Linked DNA regions of Homo sapiens. The protein of the gene in region 1 interacts with the protein of each later gene in a biochemical or structural test. Each region holds a gene or a part of one and is shown on either strand. Other genes may lie near its edges.

Region 1 (3,853 bases):
TTCCTCATTTGCAGCTTGTTGATACTTGTTCCTTTTTATTTATTAACATCCCAATCAATTTGCAGCTGCCATCATTACATAAATATTTTTCTGTTATAAAAAGAAGTGTGATCTGTTTTTTTAGTGATTTCCTTTGTTTGGGAATAGAGATTGGAAGCACATACTCAGACCTGTTTTGTTAACTAGAATTCTTTAAAAGCTGATGCCAAACATCTTTACAGAGGAACTGTAGTTCACATCCACCTGTCTGACATTGTCCCCTAAAAACAAGTGCAGTGTGGCAGCTGCTGAATCTGTCTGTTCAGTTTGTCAAGGAGGATAATTATGCTTGGGAGAGATCTGAAAAGAAGGTGAATATTTTGCACTTTTGATACTCTTAGGAACAAATAACTTATTTGGCAAATTGTTTCTTTTTTATGTTTTGGGTGTTGTTTTTGTTTTTTGACTTTTTTTGTATTGTGAACAGGCACTGAAGCTGATGTTATTTTAAGATTACAGAATGGAAAAAGAAATAAACTATTTTAATGTCTGATAATTATGGGGTAGCCCTTGCATTGCAAGATGATGATTTGATTATGGACACATTATCAACAGAATTGAATTTGCATGGAACTCAAGACACGCTTAAGATCACCACAGCATAACTGCAGATTTCAGGAATTACAGTCATAGAGGGTACATCAACTTGAAGAGTAGATTGAGTCTTACAGGAAGTGAGTTACAATAAGTAACATTAAGAGCCCAGCTGCCAGCCTGGCCAACATGGTGAAACCCCGTCTCTACTAAAAATACAAAAATTAGCCGGGCGTGGTGACGCATGACTGTAATTCTAGCTACTCAGGAGGCTGAGGCAGCAGAATTGCTTGAACCCAGGAGGCGGAGATTGCAGTGAGCTAAGATCGGGCCACTGCACTCCAGCCTGGGGGACAGAGCGAGACTCCATCTCAGAAAAAAAAAAAAAAAAAAAAGCCCAGCTGACATTTTCCAGTTTTGTTTTGTTTTCTGGGGTTTTTTTGTTTTGTTTTGTTTTGTTTTGTTTTTTAGTAGAGACGGGGTTTCACCATGTTGGCCAGGCTGGTCTTGAACTCCTGACCTCAGGTGATCCTCCCGCCTAGGCCTGGGATTACAGGCGTGAGCCACTGGGTCCGGCCTGCTTTTTTTTTTTTTTTTTTTTTTTTGGAGACGGAGTCTCACTCTGTCACCCAGGCTGGAGTGTAGTGGCATGACCTCAGCTCACTGCAACCTCCACCTCCCGGGTTCAAGCAATGCCCCTGCCTCAGCTTCCTGAGTAGCTGGGACTATAGGCACGCGCCACCACGCCCAGCTAACTTCTGTATTTTCAGTAGAGATGGGTTTTCACCATGTTGGCCAGGCTGGTCTCGAACTCCTGACCTCAAGTGATCTGCCCACCTCCGCCCCCCAAAGTGCTGGGATTACAGGCATGAGCCACCGTGTCCAGCCTTAGGTTTTCTAGTTTAGAAGACATTTTGTGTACCCTTCTAGGCCTCTGAGCAAGAAGTTTCTTCATTAGGCTCTCCGTGTTACTTTATACTTTTTACTTACGTTCACAGTGGTCCTAAAACCAAGATGCAGCCCTAAGCACCTCATAGGAGAAGCTGTATTTTTTTTTTTTTTTTTTGAGATGGAGTCTTGCTCTGGCACCCAGGCTGGAGTGCAGTGGTGCGATCTCAGCTCACTGCAGCGTCCGAGGAGGAGCTGTAGTTTAAAGGAAGATACTCAATACTCTAGGAAGCAGATCATCAAAATTTTAAAAAGCGGCTGGGTGCGGTGGCTCATGCCTGTAATCCCAGCACTTTAAGGAGGCTGAGGCGGGCGGATCACCTTAGGTCAGGAGTTCAAGACCAGCCTGGCCAATGTGGTGAAACCCTGTCTCTACTAAAAATACAAAAATTAGCCAGGCGTGGTGGCAGGCACCTGTAATCCCAGGTACTCAGGAGGCTGAGGCAGGAGAATCGATTGAACTCGGGAGGCGGAGGTTGCAATGAACCGAGATCATGCCATTGCACTCCAGCCTGGGTGACAAGCAAAACTCTATCTCAAAAAAAAAAATGTTTAAAAGGAAGATATAGAAATATGGAATGCTTATACAGTATTATTTCATAGTTTTTTTAAATGTCATGTTTCTAATGTTTAGATAATCTTGAAAGAAATTCTCCTCACTTCCCCTTTATCCTCCATCTTTCATCAAAGGAAAAAAAATCAAAGCAGTACAAGTACTCCTTTTTTTTTCCCCCAATTAATCCAAGTTCCTTAGAAATGTTGCTGTTTGGGTGAGAATTCTACTGATTATCCCGACTTCACAGCCAGCAATGACACTTTCAGCAGAAAGTTTTCTTGGCATAAACTCTTTAGTTCTCAGACTGCTTACTCATAAGTTCTTCTTGAGAACTTGTCAGCGACGCAATCTGTTTTGTCTTGAAGAGCACAAGACTCAGACGGTTGTCACTTTGGGGAGAGCACATAGCATCTCAAACAGCAGGTTAGCCGCCAGCAGGGCTGTGTTCCCTAAGAAAAAGTAAAACCTCACATGAATACCCTGCAGACGACCCGCTGAGCCAAGCCTTGGGACTCCTCAGCTTTCTCTTCCCCTTGTGCCTCCTTTTCCAGAGCCCTGTCTTGTGCACCCCTCTAGGGTGCCCGCCAGCTGTGAACACGCTTGCCCAGGCTCTCTGCCTCCATCAAGCATCATTTGGGAATCATATTTTAAAATTCAGAAAGTTCTTTGTTTACTCTGAGAACAGATTTTTCCCAAAGGAGAACCTATAATAATGATGTGTACTGTATTATCTATCCTCTGAGGTCGATAGGCCTAATTCCATAAGTTTGTCTACATTAAAATTATTGGGATGGCGTCTGCTTTGAAGATCTTAACCAGCTAAGTTCCTATTTGATAAATATTAACATATATTATTTATGCTTTAGAATTCACTTTGCAATGAAACATCAAAGGAGACGGGGATTGGGCCACCCTGTCACTAGACTACAGGCTGGTTTCTTTCTCTTCTGCTGATTGGTGGGCAAGCTAATGATACTTAACTACCTCCTGGGGGTTTTGTTAGGGTTAATGAGCTCATGTTTGTAAGGTGTGCAGTAATAGGTGTGTTTTCTTCACCATTGGACATGCTCAGCTGCTTCCCCAAGTCATATAAGGGACTCATCTTTTTTTTTTTTTTTTTGAGATGGAGTCTCGCTCTGTCACCCAGGCTGGAGTGCAGTGGCGCAATCTCAGCTCACTGCAACCTCCGCCTCCTAGGTTCTAAGCGATTCTCCTGCCTTAGCCTCCTGAGTACCTGGGATTACAGGTGTGTGCCACCACACCTGGCTAATTTTTATATCTTTAGAGAGATGGGGTTTCGCCATGTTGGCCAAATTGGTCTTGAACTCCTGACCTCAGGTGAGCTGCCCACCTTGGCCTCCCAAAGTGCTGGGATTACAGGCTTGGGCCACCATGCCTGGCCCCATTTTCTACTTATTAACTAGCTTCGTGTAATTTAAGCTACCGGCTGCCCATGGATCTCAGTCTCTTTGCTTACTCACCAGAAAGATCATACGGTGGTGAAACTTCGACAAGATCACAGCCCATCACGTTCAGGCCTTGACAACCCCTGATGATCTCCAGAGCCTATTCAAGATCAAGACTGAGTTGTCCACAGTGGTAATCATTTACAGTGAAAAGCACCCAGTAGAGCTTTTCCCAGCCCACGCCACCCTTTGACTTGGAATTGGCTTTCCCTCCATAAACATTTGTTGACTGCCAGGCACACTGGCAGGCCTCCCAGAGAAACAGATAATGCGTACACAGTCCCTGCTCCTCAGGGCTGCATGGTGTGGT
Region 2 (3,500 bases), on another chromosome or scaffold:
CCACTACGCCTGGCTAATTTTTGAATTTTTAGTAGAGACAGGGTTTCACCATGTTGGCCAGGCTGGCCTCAAACTCCTGACCTCAGGTGATTCACCCACCTTGGCCTCCCAAAGTGCTGGGATTACAGACATAAGCCACCAAGCCCAGCCTCTGTATGCATTTTCAATATCTTTATCTAAACTAGGTCCTATCTATGTTCTTATTGTCTTACTTGATACGAATGGTCGTGTCTATAAAAATTAGTCCCTGAGTGTTCAGTAAGGAATCTGGCCTCCTACAAGACCGCTGTGTTCTTCACAAAATCATTTTTAGTATTTATGGCATTTACCAAGGAGACAGTGTATTACACATGGGAAAGTGCACCACAGAACTCAGCCACGGATGAGCAGCCCAATTTGCCCAGGATGTGGCTAACAAGAGTATCAATAATCACACAGGGTGCTAACAGCCATACAGGAATTACCTTTTTTGTCTTAGGTTTCATGGGTATATTCGGTTTTGGACTTAGCTTGGCTACCGCAAGGTGGAACTGTTCACTGCCTGGTCATCTTCATCTACCACAAGAACCATTCCCAAATGCCCTCCTATCCCCCACAAGCAGGTCTTTCTCTAGCCAGTCCTTCCACTCCTCTGCTCTTGTTCTTCACTGTCCAAGTGGGCATGGAACCTCATAACTGGACTGTAAATTCTCCCAGGTGGGGCCATGACTTTCAGTTTTTCAGGAGGGACAGGGAAGGGAGGTGCTGCTTTCTGAGGTGCTCTGAGCTGAGGCCACAAGGCAACTGGAGAGCCACCCCAACCAACCTCAGGAGAATGAGAGGCTCCAGGGTGTGGAGCCCAGGAGTGTCTTATCCCTCATGTTGAAGCCTGCACCACCCTTAGCACTTTTCAGAGCTGTGTGCTGGGTTAACACTGTTAGCAATGAAATATTGACAGTTATGGCTTATTAGGAGGCAGAATATAGTGGTTAAAGCTGGCCTGGAAGTGAGTCTGCCTGGCTTCACTTCCCAGCTCTGCAATTGTCTGACTTTGTGTTCTGTGTCCCTCTGTCATGGGTTGTGGGGAATACAGAAGAAGATAATGTAAGTGCATGCTTAGCACAGAGCAGGCACTCAAAAAATGTTAGCTGTTATTAATATATTACTATGACATAGAGATTAAGACTACAGGCTTGGAAGCCGGACTCCCCAGCCAAACTCCAGCTCTACCACTCACTGCTATATGATGCAGGCAGTGTACTTAAGGTCTCCAAGCCTCAGTTCCCTCATCTGTAAAATGGGGATCTTAATCCTACCTCACAAAATACGTGTGAAGATCACTGAATATATTATGGTCTTAGAATGGTGCCTGGCATATTAAAAGTCCTATATATGTTTTAACTATGGTTATTACTGCAAGCAGATCAAATAAATATTTCTCACACAAATCTTTCAAATGTAAATGGATGCTGCTGTGATTAACAGAAGACAAATACATCTGAAACATTCCTGAAATCACAGTGTTTTCTAAATCAACTTATGATTGAAGGTACAACTAATGCCATGAGAGACTAGGACACTCTAACAATAAAAAAGTGGGCTCTTGGCTCATGCCTGTAATCCCAGCACTTTGGGAGGCTAAGGTGGGCAGGTCACTTGAGGCCAGGAGTTTGAGACAAGCCTGGCCAACATGGCGAAACCCCATCTCTACTAAAAATACAAAAATTAGCCACATGTGGTGGCTCATGCCTGTGATCCCAGCTACTCAGGAGGCTGAGGCACAAGAATCGCTTGAACCCAGGGGGTGGAGGTTGCAGTGAGCCGAGATCATGCCACTGAACTCTAGCCTGGGCAACAGAGCGACACCCTGTCTCAAAAAAAAAAAAGTAGCTCTCATATTCAAAGGGTATGAAAACCTCTGGGTTTGCTTGCTTATTATTTTATTTTATCTTTACAGGGAATATTATTTTATTTTATCTTTACAGGGAACTGAACCCAGGAGAAGACATATGATTTTCCCAGGATCACCCACCAAGGTGCTCCGGACTAGAGCTCAGCTTGAGTCCCTGCCCTGGACATTGTACCAGGCCCTCAATTAAAGTCCTGGAAGCTTCCCCCAGGCTTTCCTCTGAGACCTACTGGAAGCGAAATAATCCTTTAAAAGTTAGTTTTCTGACACAACCACTTTTGCTCCAGTCTCTATCCTATCCTTTACAAGGAAGTTGAGTAGTAAGTCAGCCAGTGAGAAATTATGTAAATTCAACCAAATTACCTAACCTGTGAGCACCTGAGCTTTTCTGTTTGCAAAAGGCAAAGAATGCTAGCTTTCCTCTCCTCTGTGGAGCAAGAGTTAAGGCATGGCCTAAGAATGTGCCAGTCCTATCCTGATCCCAGTACACAGCAATTCCTTGGTGCTTTTCCCAGTCCTGGTCAGCCTAGGAGAATATGACCCAGACGCTTAGATGACACTCTCCTCTCAGTCATCTACCTGGCTGCAATACCCTAAAGCCACTGTTCTTCCCTCTTGCCTCCTCAAACAAACCAGCAAGGTTGGCATCAGGAGTTTAGGGAGGGGAGACTATCTGGTCAGAGGGTGATAATGTAGTATGGGCTCAGGCATTCACTTACATGTCATTCTCTTTGGTTTGTCCTCTTCCCCCTCTCTCCTTAAGTCAGCTGTGAGCAGCTGAAGTCGCTAATATTTCCCAGGTATCAATTTCACAGACCAAGGGCATGCAGCACAATGGCCATTAAAACATAATGACCCTTTTTGGACATTTCCTGCTTTTCATAATCTGACAGACAAACCCTTCTCTTTCAATCTTTACGACATGATGTAAAATCTATCTGAATCCGGAAATACCACTCTTAAAAATCAGAAATGACCCTCTGGCCACAGTAACCATTATTAAGCATCCCTTGGGATACTTGAGAAAAAGCATAAGCATTTGCCACAGAACCGCTCAGCTCTTAGCAAAGGGTTCCCCAGGACTCCAGAGACAAATGAGCAACTCCTCCAACTAAGGGCATCCCTTGATCTTGGCCTCACCCTTTCCTGTCTTTTATCAGTTGCTGGGAGAGAAAAACAGTCAACATAAACTGAGTTGCAATGTTGGCCTGGGTATTTCTCTGAAGGCTTCCCTTGAAAGTAACTAGAGGGAAGGAGAAATTAACATGGAAAATTTTTTTAATTAAAAAAATACCTCAAGGAAATGGGCAAGTGTTGATTTGAAGCAGGAACTGACAGAAAAAAATATCAGAGAACAGTGGCAAATGTGTGGCTGGATCATCAGGGAACACAAGGCAAGAGCACTAAACGAGAATGTGGGTAAAAGAAGCTAGCCTATGTCCACTTAAAGTTGGAAACCTGGGTTGAAATTTTAAGTTGATAACGATACTAGATGAAAACATTAAGGAGCTAAAGAAGCTGTTCACACACACACACACGTGTTCTGTATGAGTCTGTTCAGAAACAGGCAAAATTAAGCTATGGTATTTGGGATACCTAATTTAGGTGGTAA
Region 3 (3,500 bases), on another chromosome or scaffold:
AACCATAACATCACCAAGTCGACAGTGGAGGCAAATCAAAATTTCGGCAGAAAAAGAAGGTCATGTGGAACCTCAAAAACACTTCTATTCTGGATGACATCTGTGAAATATACTACATGAACAGAACAGCTTGTTCTCACTCAGTTGCTTTGTACCAGTAAGTGTATTGCTTTCACCAAAAGTGGAGACAAAAGAATAAATTATTTGAAGAAGTATGTAAATAACATAAAAATAGTAAGCTACCTATGAATAAAAATACTTATTAAATGATTACTTCTGTATTTTAGATTATTTTGTATGACTAGTACATGTTGGGCAGAGTCATAGGAAAACAAATGCCCTATCTTGTATTATGAGGGACATAAAAGAGTTAAAAACCATAAATCAGCAAGGAGCATGCAAAAAAATCTCATCAAAGAAGGATGCACTTTAATTTGCTGATGTAAATTTGCCCTTGTGTTCTCATCCCATGATTTGACACTGGCATTCCAATTGTTTTTATCTTATTGTAAATATTCCGAAGAACTTCCAAAGGATAATTACATTGACCCATGATAGATACAATGTGAAATGGACTATTCTCCCTTGGATCACTGTTATTGAAATGTCTTATTAGCTGCCAAAGTCAATCAAATATGCCAACAGTGTATTAATTTAATTATGAGTGATGGAAAATTTCATGAACCTCTCATTTCTTCCTTGGTTTGAAAGAGATTTGTATTTTACCTAATAAGATTTATTATCAAATTAAAGTTTCATAAATTTTCAGTGAACCCAAAACCTTTTGTAGAGAAAATAATATAAACAAATATGGTGTGAGAAACAATTCTTTGTAATCCGAAGTCTACTAGTTAATCATGAACTAAAATGTCCCCCGAAAACAGTCCCAAAGCTATTATAGATGTTAATTAAATGACATTTTTTCATTTTAGTACTATTTTATGAGAAACAAAGGTGATATTTAAAGATAAAAGTTAAAATTCTTTAACCTCCCTTGTCATGGAAAGTGATTAAGTAATGCCAACTATGCAGGTTGTTTTAGGTATTTTGTCCTAAGAATGTAAATGTGAAAGGCTGGGAAATTTGAAAGCCTTAGAGGTGTGCAATTTACTCAGATTCCAGGTATTATTCAACTAGTTGTATAACATGGAACACAGTCTCTGTCCTTCAGTACAGCTTTTTTGAGATATTTTAAAAAGTCAGCTGTGTATGTAAAAAAAAAAAAAAATTTTTATTGATACACATGCTCCCAGGTAAACCAAGTATTATGTGTGTCCTTGTGGAGATAACCAAGTATCTAATAAATTGATTCAATTTTTTTTTTCAAATATGTTTTTAAAAATCACTCAAGAAGGAAACAAAGTGATTTCTATAAAGGACAGATTTACTAATTTAAAAAATTAATATCAAGTTGTTTTTATACTCATGATTCATTAATTTATTTTGCATCAGATTAATTTGTAAATACATCAAATTGAAAAGAAAAAGTGAGGGTTTATAATTGTCCCTGGGAAAATGTTAAACTGAATCTAACATACCTTACCCAAAGAACTGTGGCAAATTACAATAAACAGTTTCAGTGTAATGTATTTTGACCGTAAAACTAAGTACACATTTGTAATTAGGATAGAACTTTAGAATTATTGCACACTATATTGATCAAATACAACAGTCATTGTAAAATTGAAACCCACCAAAAGCAGCCTTCAGTAGTAGGCCACTTCTGAACTTATGGAGAAAAAGCAGTGGGATACATCGAACTTAGAATTTTCAGCTGTGGCAAGTGGTTCATTATGGAACTTCTGCTTCCAACCAGAGCTGAATCTCAGTGTGCCCCATATTGGGGTTACATGAATGTGTCCACAATCTGGAAGGCAATATGACATGGGCTAATTATCCATAAGCAAAAGAAAAACGTTTCAACAGTTTACCTACCTGTAATAGAATGATTTAAAAATTGTGAAATTTTGTAAACGTTCCATTTTAGAATTTAAAAAACCTATTAACCATTAGCTATCTTTTTAGTGTTATTATGAAAATTTAGCCTATGCTCATGTGTGTTACGAAGGAAAAGGTGCACAATGAGATATGTATAAATATATATCTCCTCAGAGAATACACACACACCTACATATGTATTTATATGCATACATGGGTGTATATATATATAAATATAATGAAATGCTGACCATTAATTATATTAGAAGAATGTTTTGTGTACATACATTTAATATACTTTAAATTACGTTGTAAAATGTAGCTTGATTAAAAACTTATGACAATACCATTATGAATATTTTTGATACTATTGATAAAAAACATAAGCCGTGATTTTTATTTAACATGATTAGTACAACAGCCAAAAAGTAACAAAATACTATTCTCGTTTTCATCAGTTTAACAATTAGTATTTAATGTTTTCTTTACAATGTGGTGATTAGTCATTGGCATTTGTTATAACTTGGACTACTTGAATGAGAAAGCTTTGAAATGAACAAAAACACTTAAAAATTTCTATCTCTCATATAATTTAGGTTTACATGTAAGAGATTTATTCATAAAATCCTAGTTTGTACATTAAGCACATTTTAACAGCAAAATGCTAATGTGTTAACCCCTCCAGTGCCTTGGTATGTGTGAGCGTGTATGTGTGTTTGGGTGTGTGTCTGTGTATGTGTGTGAGTGTGTAAGTGTTATCATTAAAGGGTTCATTACAGTGTACATAACACAAGCTTAATGGAGAATATTGTAGGTATTTAGGTCAGAGAATGAAGTTCAAAGTCATTTGAAAACTGCTAACTACTATAATAATGTCTTTTGCCTGATAAAGAATAACAATTCATCTAAGTCGAAGTATATTACAGAAAGGGCATTTATAATTTGTTAAAATGCAACAAGTATTTATTTAAAAAATAGTTTAATAGATAGTGTAAGTGTAATGTATATCTGAACACTTATCCAGCTTTTTTAAAATGGGAGGATAATCAGGTAATTATTTCTTGCCCATATTTCAGGCATGTACCAACTTATAATTTTGAAATCTTCGCTCATAAAGCTGTCATTCAGCAAGAAAAAGAAAGCAATTACTTGAAAATAAATGTCAAGTCCATATTAGCCATGCAAAGAGAGAAATTTTCCTTTGGGTGCATTAGTTTATAGATCAACATTTCCCTCATTTACAGTGCTGAAGCTTGATCATGAACTTTGTCTATGTTGAATGCTGGATTTAAGAAAAGCTTGATTTATTACTGAGAAAAATTAATAATCCTAACGATAATTTAGAATTACTGCTAGAAATCAGCAGTGTGGAGAAGCTTTAAAAGCACAAGGATGATCTTGTGCTTAACTTTTTAAGGTAAGTGTAGATGTTCGGATACTAATAACAAAGATTTTGCTACTATTAATATTGCTGTGCTCATAATTTCTCCTTATGAAATTGCTTTATTCATACTTCTAAAATTGTTCTTTATTGTTTATTCTTACTACCGAATACTTTAAAA
Region 4 (3,500 bases), on another chromosome or scaffold:
CAGCTTTCATTAAGAAGACATAATGAGGACCAATGAGGAGGGACAATAACTCTTCCCAATCTAAATCCATGACCCCTCAAAGACTATCTTGGGTACCTTCCCCTTCAGGCTTATCCCATCCTCTCCCTCCTCTTCCCCCTCAAACTGAACAATGTTCACCGAGGAACTGGATGCGCAGGGACCATCCAGGCTGAGCAATGTGCAGAAAAGCTCTACACAAGTCCCCAGCGTGGCAGGCTGGAGGGCTCAGCAGAGGGGACAGCACTGCTCGGCCATGGGGAGAAGAGGACAAAGGGTGCAGCCGCAGCCTGCAGGTATCGTGGGGTGACAGGGCAGCTGCAGAGACCTGGCAGGCCAAACTGGGAGAGGGCCTGGACCCAGTGCCCAGGACTCTGCACTTTATCCCCCAAACCACACGGCTATGGCCTTAATATGTCCCCCAAAGTTCATGCGTTGGAGACTTAATCCCTAATGCAACAGTGTTGAGAGGTGGGACCTTTGAAAGGTGATTAGGTCATGAGGGCTGTGCTCTCATGAATGGATTAATGTCTTTATCTTGGGAGGAAGTTCTTTATTGTGAGAGTGGGTTTGTTATAAAAGTGAGTTTGGCTCTCTCTTGCTCTCTTTCTCATTCTCCCTCACCTTCTCACCTCTGCCTTGGGATGACATAGCAAGAAGGCCCTTACCAGATGCTGGCACCTTGACCTTGGACTTCCCAGCCTCCAGAACTGTGAGAAACAAATCTCCATTCTTTATAATCAACCAGTCTTAGGTATTCTGTTATAGCAACAGAAAACAGACTAAGACATGTGCACAGTCACTGAGCCATTTTCAACATTTTTTCTTTTAGCCCTGTCTCTCTGGGCCTGGCGTGGGGACAGAGGCTAGAGGCTAGAGGCAGGGAGACCAGTGAAAAGGCTATTCTCTCTTCTGGGGGAAAGCAAGGGGCTAGCATCAGGAAAGTGGCACAGAGGACGTCCAAAAGTTTGCTTAACGTTCTACTTCTTTTTTTTTTTTTTGAGATGGAGTCTCGCTCTGTCGCCCAGGATGGAGTGCAGTGGCACCATCTCAGCTCACTGCAAGTTCCACCTCCTGGGTTCACACCATTCTCCTGCCTCAGCCTCCCGAGTAGCTGGGACTACAGGTGTCCCCCACCATGCCGAGCTAATTTTTCGTATTTTTAGTAGAGACGGGGTTTCACCGTGTTAGCTAGGATGGTCACGATCTCCTGACCTCGTGATCCGCCCACCTCGGCCTCTAAAAGTGCTGGGATTACAGGGGTGAGCCGCCACGCCCAGCAACGTTCTACTTCTTCAGCTAATTGCTTCCCCAAATGTTTGTCATATTCTTTAAACTGTACTCTTACATTACACATGCCTTTTTGCTTGCATGATAGTTCAATTATTTAAAAAAACATATTCCAGTAGTCCAGTTAAGAGCTTGCACACTTGAAAATGCTTAAAATGCTAAATTTTTTATGTCTATTTTACTGCAATTTTTAAAAAGAAAAAAAAGGAGAGCTTAAACTAAAACAGTAGAGAGGACAGTGGAGAAGTGGCTCAGTGAGGACCTTAGGTGGCAGAAGCAAAGGGATCTGGGCTCAGATGGGAGCAGGAAGTGAAGATGAAAGAGGAGCTATCAGTGACCCTCAGCAGTCACTGCCCGGGCTCTCATCTTGCCTTCCTGTACCTCCTCTTCCCCTCTTGTCTCTTTAGTTTAGGCCACAAACTCAAGGCCTTCCATATTGTGTATCCCCCCAGAGCTCCAAACACAGCACCTTGTTTGTAGTGGTGCCCAAAACACATCTTGTTATGAGACTGAGTGTACCAGATGGTCACGGTTACAGCAGTATGAATATTCCCAAAAGAACGAAGAAGGAGATAATTATTTCATCCAGTCCAGACACTCAGAGTGTGGGCACAATTACTGATGGAGCCACATGCTTCCAACGTGTGAATTCACTCCAAGGACACTTGACATCTAAAGAAGCAATGTTTACTCCGCCACCTGCACAGGCTTGTCCATGGCCGTGTTTCAGGAGCATCACTGGTATGCGGAGCAATTCACAGCACTCCCCCTAGAGTGGCCCACAGACAGCAAAGATGTCCCACACCAGGAAAATTGTCACTGAGATGGACCCTGCAGGGCCCGTCACCCCATTCGCAAACCCTGAAACTGGCAGGACAATTCGAAAGAGCTGTTCCCTAGAAGAGAACAAGGGGCCAGCACTCACTAAGACATCTGCAACCCAGATGTGTCAGAGGACACATCAAGAACACTGAGCTGCCTCAAAGACCACATATAACTTGTCACCAGATTTCTTATCTTCACAGAGGACAGCCAGCCACAAGAGAGAGGCTGCAGGAGTGATGTCAGGGACTTAGCAACCACAACTCTCAGACACAATCTCCAGTAACTACATTCCTCAAAACGGTCTCTCAGAAGCATGTGCTGAATGCAGCTGCTAACATGCAACCAGACGTCCATGTCTTGACGTCAGGACGGCAAAGGGCAGATGGTACATCACTGGCACATGAGCACACAGCTCCCATTCCTTGCATAGCGGTGCCATCTCTACAGCATCCCTGTTTCTCGCCAGGCTCTGACATCAAGCTGTGCACGTTGAAGGTATGCACATCCTTGTTAAGAGAACAAACTAAAGTACACAGTACTCTTGCTATCTTAACTTCAAAATCTCTGTCATTCGGGGGGATAAAATCTGTAATATGCACATATAAATATGTATACCAACACTAAATAAAATATTCTCTAGGCCAATATAGGACATAAGGACTAAAATACACATTACAGTAACATGGAACAGTCCAGATCCTATTAAAATGTTATTCAAGTTTTCAAAAATGAAAACACTGAGGACATTGTAGGAGAACTACAATAGAACCAGGAGTTTATTTTCCACTGGTGTTTCCTATTAGCTCTCCAAGCCTTCAGATGATTTCAGAAAAATTTATTCCAGATGTATAACACTACGACAACAATATAATTTGGACTATAATTACTCAATTCATAACTTACCACTGCTTCCTATACTTTTTGCATTTCTTTCTCTTGAACTATTTAGTGGGATTTCATTTTTATTTTGTAAAAATAATTGTTAGAGTCATTTTGTTTACTTAGGAGGTAACTCTTTTGTATCTATAAAATGGCTCTGATCTCACATAGAATGATACCTTTGCTAGGTATAAGATTATTGTATTGCATCCTTTTCACAATAATTTGCTAACACTGTTCCACTATCTTCTAGCTTACAGTCTCGCAGATGTGCATTTTAATACTATTCAGATTCTTTTTACCTTGGTACAAAAATCTATTCCTTCCGTCTGGAAGCTGATACAATTTCCTCTCCACTCTTAGAGTTCAGAAATTCCAGCAAACTATGTCTAGATAAGGGTCTTTTTTAATTTTATGAGGGTCTCATTAATTTTATGTGAGATTCATTTGGTGAGCCCTTTCCGAATCAAGTCCCACATCTTACTTTA
Region 5 (3,500 bases), about 30 Mb from region 1:
CAGAAGAATTGTTTGAATCCGGAAGGCAGAGGTTGCAGTGAGCCAAGATCGTGCCACTGCACTCCAGACTGGGGGACAAGAGCAAAACTTCGTCTCAAAAAAAAAAAAAAAAAAATTGGCCAGGCGTGGTGGCGGCTGCCTGTAATCCTAGTTACTTGGGAGGCTGAGGCAGGAGAATTGCTTGAACCCAGGAGGCAGAGGTTCCAGTGAGCTGAGATCGCACCACTGCACTCCAGCCTGAGCAACAGAGCAAGACTCGGTCTCAAAAAAAAAATGATAATAATAATAATAATCTTATGGGACCCCCATCTTGTATGTCATCCATCATTGACTAAAACATAATTATGCGGAACATGACTGTATGCAGAGAAAAAGAAAATGAATAGTTCCATCTATACTGAACATGTATAGATATTTTTTTCTTGTCACTATTCCCTAAGTAATAGAGTGTAACAGTTATTTACATAGCATTTACATTGTATTATATATTATAAATAATCTGGAGATGATTTAAAGTACATGGGAGGATATACATAGGTTACATGCAAATACTATGCCATTTTATAGATAGAACTTGAGCATACCAGAGTTTGGTATCTGCAGGGGGTCATGTACTCAATCCCCGAGAGATATTGAGGGACAACTGTAGCAGCAAACAGACCTGAGGGGCTGAATGTGGAATACAGGTAAGGTTAAGAAAAAAATCAAACACAACCTCCAGTTTTGTTCTGGTAAATGAGTAGTGCCATCTATTGACATGAGGCAGACTGGGGAAGAAGCAGACTAGAAAGTGAAAATCAAGACTTCATTTTTGGACATGTTAAGTTTGAGAGGTCTCTGAGCTATCCAAATGAAAATGTTACACGGACTATTAAAAATAGGAGTAGGGCCAGGCACAGTGGCCGATGCTTGTAATCCCAGCACTTTGGGAGGCCGAGGTGGACGGATCACCTGAGGTCGAGAGTTTGAGACAGCCTGACCAACATGGAGAAACCTAGTCTCTACTAAAAATACAAAATTACCCAGGCGTGGTGGCACATGCCTGTAATCCCAGCTACTGGGAGGCTGAGGCAGGAGAATCACTTGAACCTGGGAGGCGGAGGTTGCAGTGAGCCAAGATGGTACCACTGTACTCCAGCCCGGGCAACAGTGCGAGACTCCGTCTAAAAAAAAAAAAAAAAAAAAAGGCTTACAGATTGATCTTTAGGCCAAGAGACATCCAGAACAATGATGGGAAAACTCTGTAATCACATGTGTCCTACCCTCATCAGGGAACATTTGCCAACCTGCTTCAAGCCACCATAGACTCTCTGCTCCCAGTACTTTTGATGAAACTAAATATTTCAAAGTTAACACCTTTTTAGGAGCTAGCCCTTACCCATACCCTGGATAAGAGGGAAAGGAGGTCAAATAAACTTTTGCACTGAAAACTCGGAAGATTTCTCAAATGCTCATGTCTCAAACAGCATGTCCTGCATCCTATCCTCCACACAGTTGCCAGAGTAATCCAACTAAAACACAAATAAGAATATACTGCTCCTGTGCCGCGCGCGGTGGCTCACACCTGTAATTCCAGCATTTTGGGAGGCCAAGGCGGGCAGATCACCTGAGGTCAGGAGGTCCAGACCAGCCTGGCCAACATGGTGAAACCCCATCTTTACTAAAAATACAAAAATTAGGCCAGGCGCAGTGGCTCACGCCTGTAATCCTAGCACTTTGGGAGGCCGAGACAGGCGGATCACGAGGTCAGGAGATCAAGACCATCCTGGCTAACACAGTGAAACCCCGTCTCTACTAAAAATACAAAAAAATTAGCTGGGCGTGGTGGCGGGCGCCTGTAGTCCCAGCTATTCGGGAGGCTGAGGCAGGAGAACGGCGGGAACCCGGGAGGCAGAGCTTGCAGTGAGCCAAGATCAGGCCACTGCACTCCAGCCTGGGTGACAAAGTGAGACTCTGTGTCAAAAAAAAAAAAAAGCCGGGTGCGGTGGCTCACGCCTATAATCCCAGCACTTTGGGAGGCCAAGGAGGGCAGATCACGAGGTCAGGAGATCGAGACCATCCTGACTAACATAGTGAAACCCCGTCTCTACTAAAAATACAAAAAAATTAGCCGAGCGTGGTGGTGGGCGCCTGTAGTCCCAGCTACTCCAGAGGCTGAGGCAAGAGAATGGCGCGAACCCGGGAGGCGGAGCTTGCAGTGAGCCGAGATCGCGCCACTGCACTCGAGTCTGGGCGACAGAGCGTGACTCCGTCTCAAAAAAAAAAAAAAAAAATACAAAAATACAAAAATTAGCTGGGCGTGGTGGCATCCCAGGTACTCGAGAGGCTGAGGCAGGAGAATTGCTTGAACCCCACAGGGGGAGGCTGCAGTGAGCCGAGATCGTGCCATCGCACTCCAGCCTGGGAGACAAGAGCGAGACTTCGTCTCAAAAAAAAAAAAAAAAAGAAATATACTGCTCTCGGCTAGGCACGGTGGCCCACGCCTGTAATCCCAACACTTTGAGAGGCCGAGCCAGGTGGATCACTTGAGGTCGGGAGTTTGAGACCAGCCTGACCAACATGGAAAAACTCCGTCTCTACTAAAATACAAAATTAGCCAGGCATGGTGGCCAATGCCTGTAATCCCAGCTACTTGGGAGGCTGAGGCAGGAGAATAGCTTGAACCTGGGAGGTGGAAGTTGCGGTGAGCTGAGATCGTGCCACTGCACTCCAGCCTGGGCCACAGAGCAAGACTGCCTCAAAAAAAAAAAAAAAGAATATACTGCTCCCCTACTTATTATCCTTTTTTTTTTTTTTTTTTTGAGATGGAGTCTCGCTCTGTCGCCCAGGATGGAGTACCGTGGCGCGATCTTGGCTCACCGCAACCTCCACCTCCCGGGTTCAAGCAATTCTCCTGCCTCAGCCTCCCAAGTAGCTGGGATTACAGGCGCCCACCAAGACGCCTGGCTATTTTTGTATTTTTAGTAGAGATGGGGTTTCATCATGTTGGCCAGGCTGGTCTCAAACTCCTAACCTTAGGTGATCCACCCACCTTGGTCTCCCAAAGTGCTGGGATTACAGGCGTGAGCCACCACACCCAGCCAATTATCCTTTTATATCACACTAAAGACCCTCAACAATCAAGGCTTCTTTAATCTCTAACCTAGCATTTACACCTTCAACGTAAAGCTCTGGGTCTGGCAATAACAAACCGATTATAGTTCCCTATATATATTACGCAGCTTCCCTTCTGTGTGCTTTCTGCCCTATGCTTTTCCCAATGTACTAACCCTGTAATGCAGAGGAAAGAGGTTCTGATTTCCATTAAAATAATTTTTTAAAATTTCTGTCACACTGAGGGTATTTTAGGAACTAAAGTTGAACTCATCTTCTGCCATCCTCAAAAATATTCTATTTCCTTTGTCTACTCCTATCATATAACCATTATTACTCAAATTACCAAAATTCAAAATATTTGAATCATTCTCCATTCATTCATTCAATAAATAATGACTGAGCAC
Region 6 (3,500 bases), on another chromosome or scaffold:
AAACAGAAAGGGGCAAGGGAGTGGGAGCCTGGCAAAGAAGAAGAGAATGAGCATGTGTGAGAGAAACAGTTTCTGGGAGGCAAGTGTGCAAAAGGCGTGACCAAAAGTGACGGTGCAAAAGGGGCAAGAGGGAAGGCGGGGGGTGGGGGGCTAGGAGTGTCATGGTGAGAGGGGAGAGTTGGGGAGTGGAAGAATCTGGGGTTTTTAAGAATAAGAAGGGAAAGTGCTTCAACGTAAGAAAATGGAGGTAAGAGTGTGTCAGGAGGGGTGCATAAGATAGCAAGTGTGCAAGGGCTGAGCAAAGAGCAGGGCACTCCAGAGAATGAATGATGTGCATGGAGTCTGTGAGGGGGAGGGAAAATGTGTCCCAAGTGTGTCTGCAACAAGGGTCCAGAGCGAGCGGGGAGGAGGAGATGTGAAATGGAGTGTGTAAAGGAGGGCCCTGGTAGGGGAAAAGTGTGTAAGCAGCAAGAAGCAGAGAAGGAGGCATGGAGCGTGAGAAAGGAAATGCAGCGTGTGCGAGGAGAGCAGAGTGTATTTGAGCGGGCCTCGCCAGCCAGAAGCAAAGGCAGAATGTGCAAGACAGCGAGAGGGCAAATTTGTGCAAAATTGCAGCCCGGGGACGGGAGGGGAGAGAGGTGAGCAGGCGTGCAACGGAGCGTGCAAGAGGCTGAGGGGGGCAGCTGTGTGTGCTGGGGAGAGGGGAAGGGGGGAGAGCTGAGGGGCCTGGAGAGAGTGGGAAGGGTTGTTAGAGGGGTGGCAGGTGGTGGAATCCGAGGGCACCCCCTTCCCCTGCGGCCTGGGGGACAGTCCCCATCCAATCGGGCTCAGGGCTGACCCTCTATGGCTCTGTCTATCCCCTCCCCCCAGAATAGGCCCTTCCCTCCTTCTCAATTCCCCTCTGTAATTTCTCCTATCCCCCCTCCGCTCCCCGCTTCACACACACACACACACTCTTGTGTCAGCTGCCCCCCTTCAGTGAGGTGCAAATGTCCGGCCTGGATTGGGCCACCTGGTGACCTCTGGCCTTGGGAGATGAGGGCAGGGCGCAGTTTGAACAGAGTCCCTGGCCCGGGGAGAGAATGACAGTCAGGGGTCAGAGGTCAAGAGGCCAGCAGGCTCAAGAGTTCTGTGGACGGGGCTGGTCCGTCCAGGCCAGCCATCACCTCTCCAGGAAGAATTTGAGAGCCCGGTCGATGTTCATGCGGTGGCCCACCCTGGTCACACCTAGATCGACGTAGTCCTCCTTGGTCAAGGCGGGCAGGTGGGAGCCATCGATCTCGTGGTCCAGGAACTGGGCTCGGTGCTCCGCCAAACCCAGCCACTCCAGCCAATCAGCCACGTCGAACTTGGTCCAGAACCCCAGAGGTTTAGCGCCAAACGGCTTGTCCGGGGGCAGCGAGAGCAGGCGGGTCGGTGAGAGGGAGCGCGAGGCCCCTGACAAGGCTCCCCCGAGCCCCCCGGATATCCCCGGGTGTGGCGGCACAAAGACTGGGGCGAAGGGGTCAGCCGAGCCTCCTGCCCCTCCAGTTGGGGAGCCACGGATGTCAAAGAGGCCTGGGTAGAGGGGTCCGGAAGGCAGGATGGGCAGGGACGAGGGCCTGGGCGCAGGGCTGACCTTGTGCTCCGAGGCGGGCAGCAGCGAGGGGCTGGGGGCCCGGCGGAGCAGAGGGGGCCGCATCTCGAACTCCACGCCCTGGAGGTGGCGGGTGGACGTGGAGGAGGAGGAGGCTGAGGGTGAGGTGGCCCCTGGGGCCGCAGCGGCTGTAGGGGAGACCCCTGTTCCGGTGGGGAGTGGCGGCAGAGGTGGTTTGGGCCAGTTCTGAAACAGGCTGCTGACAGGCTTGGAGAGGAGTGAGGACTGGGAGTCGTCGGAGAGTCTGGAATGTGACAAGGGGGCAGTGGGGGAGGACAGGGATTTAGGGGGCAAGGGCAGGGGTGAGAAAGAGGCAGAGGTCAAGATATAGGGAGAGAGGAGGAGAGACATAAGGGTAGGGGGAGAGACGGAGGAGAGACGGGAAGAAATGGAGGGAGCAAGGGGTAAGACGGCCGGCCGTCGAGGAAAGAAATGAAGGGAGAGAAAGATGAGAGGACAGGGAGAGGGCGACAGTTAAGAGAGATGAAAGAAAAAGAGACATTAAGTGATAATAATAATAATCGTCACCGCTTACTGATGCTCACGTGTGCCAGGCATTGTTCTAAGTGCTTTACATGATTGCATCTCAGTTTAATCCCCACGACAGCCCTGATGCAGGTTACTATTATTATCAGCACAGAGAGGTTAAATAACTTGCCTAAGGACACACAGGAAGTGGCAGAGCCCGGTTATATGGCACCAAAGTCTGAGCTCTTCACCACTATTCTATACTGCCTTTCAGGTTATGGCCAGTCGTAGCAGAGTGAAAGATGGGGAGACAGTGAGAGAGAGACAAAAAGAGGGTGAGCATCCAGGGGAGAGAGATGGAAGGGACAGGGGACACAGAGAGAGAGAGATGAAGAGAGGGAGATGAAAGAGAGAAGAAACAAGGGGAGAAAAAGGTTCCCCTCATCCCTTTCGTTCCCTCCCCTCCAGCACTGTCCCACCTCAGGGCCTTTGAACTGGCTGCTCCCCCTGCCTGGCTCACTCTTGCCCTGGGCAGCTGCTCCCTCTCCACTTTCATTACTCTGCCCACCTTGCCTGTTACATGAGAGACCTTCTCCACCCATCCCATTGTGGTAGCTTTTTTTGTAGGATGGTTGCAATTATTTTGTTTACTGCCCCGCCCCCACTCCTATGTCCCTAGACTATGAGCCCTGTGGAGTTGCACAGTCTTTGCCTGTCCTGTCCAGCAGGGGATCCCATCACCCAGAAGGGCACTCTGCACACATAGGTCATGAGTCAATAATTAATGCAATTGTTGACTGAATTAAGCATCCTTCCTGTTGCTGCTACAAGCAGTGGAAAAAAAAAAAAAGAAAAGAAAAAAAAAATCCTCTTCTCTAACCAGAATACTTAAGAATAGTCAAGGAATTGCATTCAGTTCTTAAAGGCCTAATAAACCCACATTTGTTTGTTTATTTTTACAGCGTAGGAGCATTGATTCAAGTTGCTCTAATAATATACACTTCCTTTTTCTTTTCTTTCTCTCTCTCTCTCTCTTTTTTTTTTTTTTTTTAAGACAGGGTCTCACTTTGTTCCCCAGGCTGCAGTGCCTTGGTGTCATATCAGCTCACTGCAGCCTCAACCTTCCAGGCTCAAGTGATCCACCCACCTCAGCCTCCTGAGTAGCTGGGACTACAGAGGCAGGCCACTGTGCCCAGCCTCCTTTTTCTTTTCTTTCTTTTTTTTTTTTTTTCAACCTGGGAGCATAGATTTAAGTTGCCCCAAATATACACTCCCTGAACCCACATTTGAAGGTCAGACACATTTGGATAGCAGACCTTCAAACAGAATTCAAGTGAACTCTGTAGATGGACAAGGATATTTAAAACCTGCTCCCAACCCTCTGTGTATCTGAAGC
Region 7 (4,123 bases), on another chromosome or scaffold:
CTATTCTTTGACCACTGCAAATCTAAGACAGAAGGGAGCCAGTACCCCGCTCCCAGCTATATGGACAAAGCTGATATATTTAGAGCTGTGTCTGTCAAATCTGCCCCCCTCCCCCACCAATCTGGGTCCTTGAGTACATAGTGATAAGCTTGTGTGAGGCAGGGATTGAGCCTTCTGATTAGCCTTCTGTGACCTCCCACCACCTAACAGTATTTACAGGGCATTGCCTGTTGTTGATGTTAGTATCTGATCTGAACACCTTCCAAATAACAAAAAGCCCCTGCCCCTTGAATCAGGAGGCACCTCGAGGACACATCACATTGTCACAAGAACTCTCTGCTGCTGGTGAGGTTCTAAATCAATGCACATGCTTAAACCAAAAGCACTATTTACTCCAATGGTGCCTTCAAACACTTATTCAGCTTGCCCATGAACCCTCTGATAAAAAGAATTGACTTTTATCCAACACCTATTACATGCAAACATCCTATTAGACACTGTTATACATGATCTCATTTAATCTTGTGAGTTTGGAATTATTATTATTCCCGTTTTACGAATTAAAAAAGTGACGCTCGGAGGCCCAATACTCCACAGCCAGCGAGGATTCCAGCCCAGGTTCAGAGCCTCCAGAGCCTCTTCCCGCTGCCCTGTCTCTGAAGTGCTCTGCCTTCTCTGTGCTTCCACCAGGCTCACTGCTCTCATCTGTCTCATGCTCTCCCAGCTCTCACCAGTTCCTTGCTCGTACCAGCTCCTTGACCTACACATAGCCTTTCTATTCCTCACCACCTGTTGAAATCCTCTTCTTCCTCCACCTTCCATTGTAAAGCCTTCTCCAATATCTCCACTTGGAATTCACCCTCCTTAGTGTTCACAGGAATCCCAGGCGATAAAGCCCACAATGAAGATCCTGTGGCACAAGCCTCTCTATTCCCCAACAGAACCTAAGCTCCTTGAGGGTAGGGCCTGTTGGTAATTTTCATGTTTGTGTCCTCTCGAATGAGTAGTGAGAAAGTGCTTGATGAACCAATAGAGAATGAAGAGGGAAAAGACTGGTGGCATTTGAATGCGTCAGAGAGATAAAAGGCTCTGGACAAATTAGCTTCAAGGATGGGGTCTCATTCAGGAAAGACAAACTTAGGTACCACAACTCTGCTCTGGTCACCAAGCACACCCTCACCAGCTCTCTGATTTCATAATGCTAGAAACTTAAAACCAGGATGTCGAGGAAGGAAATAAAATCATAAAATCACTTCTGTGAGAATCCTTTCGTGGTAATGCGTTTCACCCACACACTGGGGAGCCACTAATTGCAGCACAAGGGGAACAAGATATTGGGCAAAAGAATAAATTTCACTTTCTAGCATATCACAGTTAACTACCTCGTGCTTGTTTTGCTGTGACTGTGCCAGAATGCACCAGTCCTGGAAAAGATGAACTTGGCTCCTTAACCGTACCCATACTCAACACCGACCAAAGGATGCCCGAAATTGTCTTGATTGGAAATCATCTCAACCATCATCTTAGACTAGAAACAAGTAGATGCTGGCCTCTAGGTCAGGACCCCTAGAACAGTGCATTATTTTTTTTTCCCAAACAACCATTCTGAGGTTTTTACAAAAATAACCGACTCACAAACAGAAACGCTTCCTGATCTATAAGCCACTTTGAAAACAAATCATTATGTCGTTGAATATTTCATGACGGTCCAAAGCACTGAAGAAGGCGAACTGAGCGTTCACCAATCCTCCCCATGTCTATTTTGGGACTTCCAAAGCAAACTGCAAATGCCTCCTTTATTTTCTAAACGTTCATTTGCAAGTGCTAGATGGATTCTTGGTGAAATATTGCCTCCACCCAAACTGACTAAATGCAGAGATCCGGAGGTTCCGCTTCTCCAGAGTTTACAGCTGAAAGAGACAGCGAACAACTAGTGAACACGACTTCCACCCTATTTTATAGGTGGCAAAAGCAGGGGGCACTTGCCCAAGGTCACACAGACAGTGGGTGTATGGCAGAGGAGCCACCAGAAGCCAGAGTCCTGACTCCTAACCCTAGGGGCATCCCCTGCTTCCCGAGGCTGACTCAACGCCCCCACTAAAGCTCAGTCAAAGCTGCTGCAAGTTAGCGACGCGACCCTGGAGACTGACTTCTGTGGCTCATTCCTCTCCACACGCAATGAGTTCTGGAGCTGAGACACTCAGGGATGCCCCTCTACTCAAAAAATGACAACACAGGCATTGGCACTGCAGCTGATCGTCCCTGGCGAACCCCTTCTGGTTCAGGTGTGGCCATCGAGGACGGACAGAGAGGGTTGGTCTGAGGTCACTCAGAAAGTTGGCGCTGGCCGCGGCCGCACCTGAACCCAGGTCTCTCCCCCTCCCGCGTTGCCGCTGTTTCCACTCACTACACCATGCAGATCTCGGAAACTTAAGCACACATCGCTACTGTGCAAACAGTTCACGATGGCAGGTCCTGAGCTAGCCCACGGACGCGCCCCCGAGCCGGGCTTGGGGACACGAGGACCGGAGGCGGGCGCGGGTCACCCGGGACTGGTGGTGCAGGCGGAGGGCGGCGCGGAGGAAGCCGAGGCGCAGGCCCGGGGTGTGGGGACAGGCCGTCTCCCCAAAACTTTGCGGTGCCAGGACCCCTCCCTTACCTGCAGAGGAGGTGCCGCCCGCGCGGACAAGGACCTAGCGGGCTGACGCTCTCGGAGAAGGGCGGCCCCGCCCAGCGGCGGGCACGGTCGCGGCCAAGGCTCGGGAAGCAGCGCTGCTCGGGCTCGGCTCGGGCTCCGCCTCCCGCGCCGAGGCTGCAGCCGGAGGGGTTGGCCGGGCCGGGCCGCGCCCGCGCCGTCTGGCGGCGGCAGGTGCTGAGGCTGCAGCTGCGCGGCCGCCAGCTGCCGGCGCCGCGACCCCCGCCCCGGGGGAGGAGCCCCGCGCGCCGCCTCCGCTGGCTCCGAGGTCCCGGCCCGCCGCAGTGGGCGGTCCCGCTCCCACCCGGGCCCTGCCTCCGCCGCCTGCCTCAGCTCACCGCCGGGGCACGCAGCGTCCGCTGAGTACCCAGGGGGGAGACTGAGGCTGGGAGAGGAAAGGGACTCCCCAAGGTCACCCGGACCAGCGGTGGTTGGGCCAGAACTGGAACCCAGAAGAGTTCCCAAAACGACCCCCTTCTCACGCCTCCTTTTCCCCAGGAAGAGCCCCAGCTACGGGGAGCCCTGGGGGACTCGCCCCCTGACCCCCACGCCCCGCAGGTGTTCGGCTGAAGGGAGAGGGAGAGCGTGGGCCCACGGTAGGCACTGTGGACCACCTCCCCTGTCTCTGTAAACTCCTTCCGCGCTGGGAAACTGTGTTCTCCTAGCTTTCCTCGGCCCTCTCCAGCCACTCCCTCGGTCTCCTTGAGGGTTCCTCAAACCAGAAGCTCTAAAATGCCGGAGCGCCCTGGGACTCTGCACTCAGCCCTTTTCTGACCCCCTGAGCCGTCTCACCCACTCCCCTGGTTCTGGTCCTACCGCCTCTCTGAGCATGATACCCAAATGCATGTGTCTGTGCACTATTTTCCGTGCTGAACTCTACTGAACACCTACGAGGTCCATATCCTGCATTAGACACTGGAGATACAATACACCTTTAATAAAGCAGTCCCTGTCCTCATGGAATGTACAGTCTAGGACTATTAAAATACAGTCCAGTTCCTGTAACAATAACCCAATCCCACGGGGCCAAGGGCACCACTCAGGCCTGCACTGACTGAGTGAAGGCCTCCTGGAGAGGGCATGCTCTAAATGGAAACCTGAAAGGCCAGTGGAATTGGCCAGTGAAAGGGAGGAGTGTGGAGAGAGCCTTTCAGGTTGAGACCACAGGAACAAAGACCCCAAGATGAGAGAGATCCCACAGAGGGAGTGGCAGGAGTTGAGACATAAAGCAGGGGAGTCAGCAGGGGCCAATTCCTGGTCAAGGAGTTTGCACCGTGTTCCCAGTGCACTGGCAGGTTCATGGGAGGAGTTCTGAGTAGGGTTGAGGCACCATCAGACTGGGATGTTAGATCATTCTGGGGATGGTGCACAGGCAGATGTTAACAAGTGCATCCTTCATCCAAGGGCGGTGGGGGAAGACTAGCAGCA

The links.
Region 2: the proteins of AGMAT (region 1) and PDLIM1 interact in a test that uses a peptide from one of them, tested with the Homo sapiens proteins (one large-scale study listed by IntAct).
Region 3: the proteins of AGMAT (region 1) and SNTG1 interact in a test that uses a peptide from one of them, tested with the Homo sapiens proteins (one large-scale study listed by IntAct).
Region 4: the proteins of AGMAT (region 1) and APBA2 interact in a test that uses a peptide from one of them, tested with the Homo sapiens proteins (one large-scale study listed by IntAct).
Region 5: the proteins of AGMAT (region 1) and MAST2 interact in a test that uses a peptide from one of them, tested with the Homo sapiens proteins (one large-scale study listed by IntAct).
Region 6: the proteins of AGMAT (region 1) and SHANK1 interact in a test that uses a peptide from one of them, tested with the Homo sapiens proteins (one large-scale study listed by IntAct).
Region 7: the proteins of AGMAT (region 1) and FRMPD1 interact in a test that uses a peptide from one of them, tested with the Homo sapiens proteins (one large-scale study listed by IntAct).

Annotation. Positions count from the first base shown.
Region 1 is NC_000001.11:15,571,199-15,575,051, forward strand, and holds the end of AGMAT (guanidino acid hydrolase, mitochondrial precursor), read right to left. Parts: intron 3,644-3,853; coding exon 3,559-3,643; intron 2,527-3,558; coding exon 2,453-2,526; 3' UTR 501-2,452; downstream 1-500. UniProt on the Homo sapiens protein: Hydrolyzes linear guanidino acids to form urea and the corresponding amines. Displays specificity for substrates having a negatively charged head group and short chains including taurocyamine, guanidino propanoic and butanoic acids.
Region 2 is NC_000010.11:95,284,504-95,288,003, forward strand, and holds part of PDLIM1 (PDZ and LIM domain protein 1), read right to left. Parts: intron 1-3,500. UniProt on the Homo sapiens protein: Cytoskeletal protein that may act as an adapter that brings other proteins (like kinases) to the cytoskeleton. Involved in assembly, disassembly and directioning of stress fibers in fibroblasts.
Region 3 is NC_000008.11:50,792,907-50,796,406, forward strand, and holds part of SNTG1 (gamma-1-syntrophin), read left to right. Parts: 3' UTR 1-3,500. UniProt on the Homo sapiens protein: Adapter protein that binds to and probably organizes the subcellular localization of a variety of proteins. May link various receptors to the actin cytoskeleton and the dystrophin glycoprotein complex.
Region 4 is NC_000015.10:29,049,974-29,053,473, reverse strand, and holds part of APBA2 (amyloid-beta A4 precursor protein-binding family A member 2), read right to left. Parts: intron 1-3,500. UniProt on the Homo sapiens protein: Putative function in synaptic vesicle exocytosis by binding to STXBP1, an essential component of the synaptic vesicle exocytotic machinery. May modulate processing of the amyloid-beta precursor protein (APP) and hence formation of APP-beta.
Region 5 is NC_000001.11:45,810,112-45,813,611, reverse strand, and holds part of MAST2 (microtubule-associated serine/threonine-protein kinase 2), read right to left. Parts: intron 1,164-3,500; exon of another isoform or gene 1,041-1,163; coding exon of another isoform or gene 1,023-1,040; intron 665-1,022; exon of another isoform or gene 612-664; coding exon of another isoform or gene 585-611; intron 1-584. UniProt on the Homo sapiens protein: Appears to link the dystrophin/utrophin network with microtubule filaments via the syntrophins. Phosphorylation of DMD or UTRN may modulate their affinities for associated proteins. Functions in a multi-protein complex in spermatid maturation.
Region 6 is NC_000019.10:50,660,803-50,664,302, forward strand, and holds part of SHANK1 (SH3 and multiple ankyrin repeat domains protein 1), read right to left. Parts: intron 1,881-3,500; coding exon 1,163-1,880; 3' UTR 1-1,162. UniProt on the Homo sapiens protein: Seems to be an adapter protein in the postsynaptic density (PSD) of excitatory synapses that interconnects receptors of the postsynaptic membrane including NMDA-type and metabotropic glutamate receptors via complexes with GKAP/PSD-95 and Homer, respectively, and the actin-based cytoskeleton.
Region 7 is NC_000009.12:37,649,631-37,653,753, reverse strand, and holds the start of FRMPD1 (FERM and PDZ domain-containing protein 1), read right to left. Parts: upstream 2,801-4,123; 5' UTR 2,660-2,800; intron 1-2,659. UniProt on the Homo sapiens protein: Stabilizes membrane-bound GPSM1, and thereby promotes its interaction with GNAI1.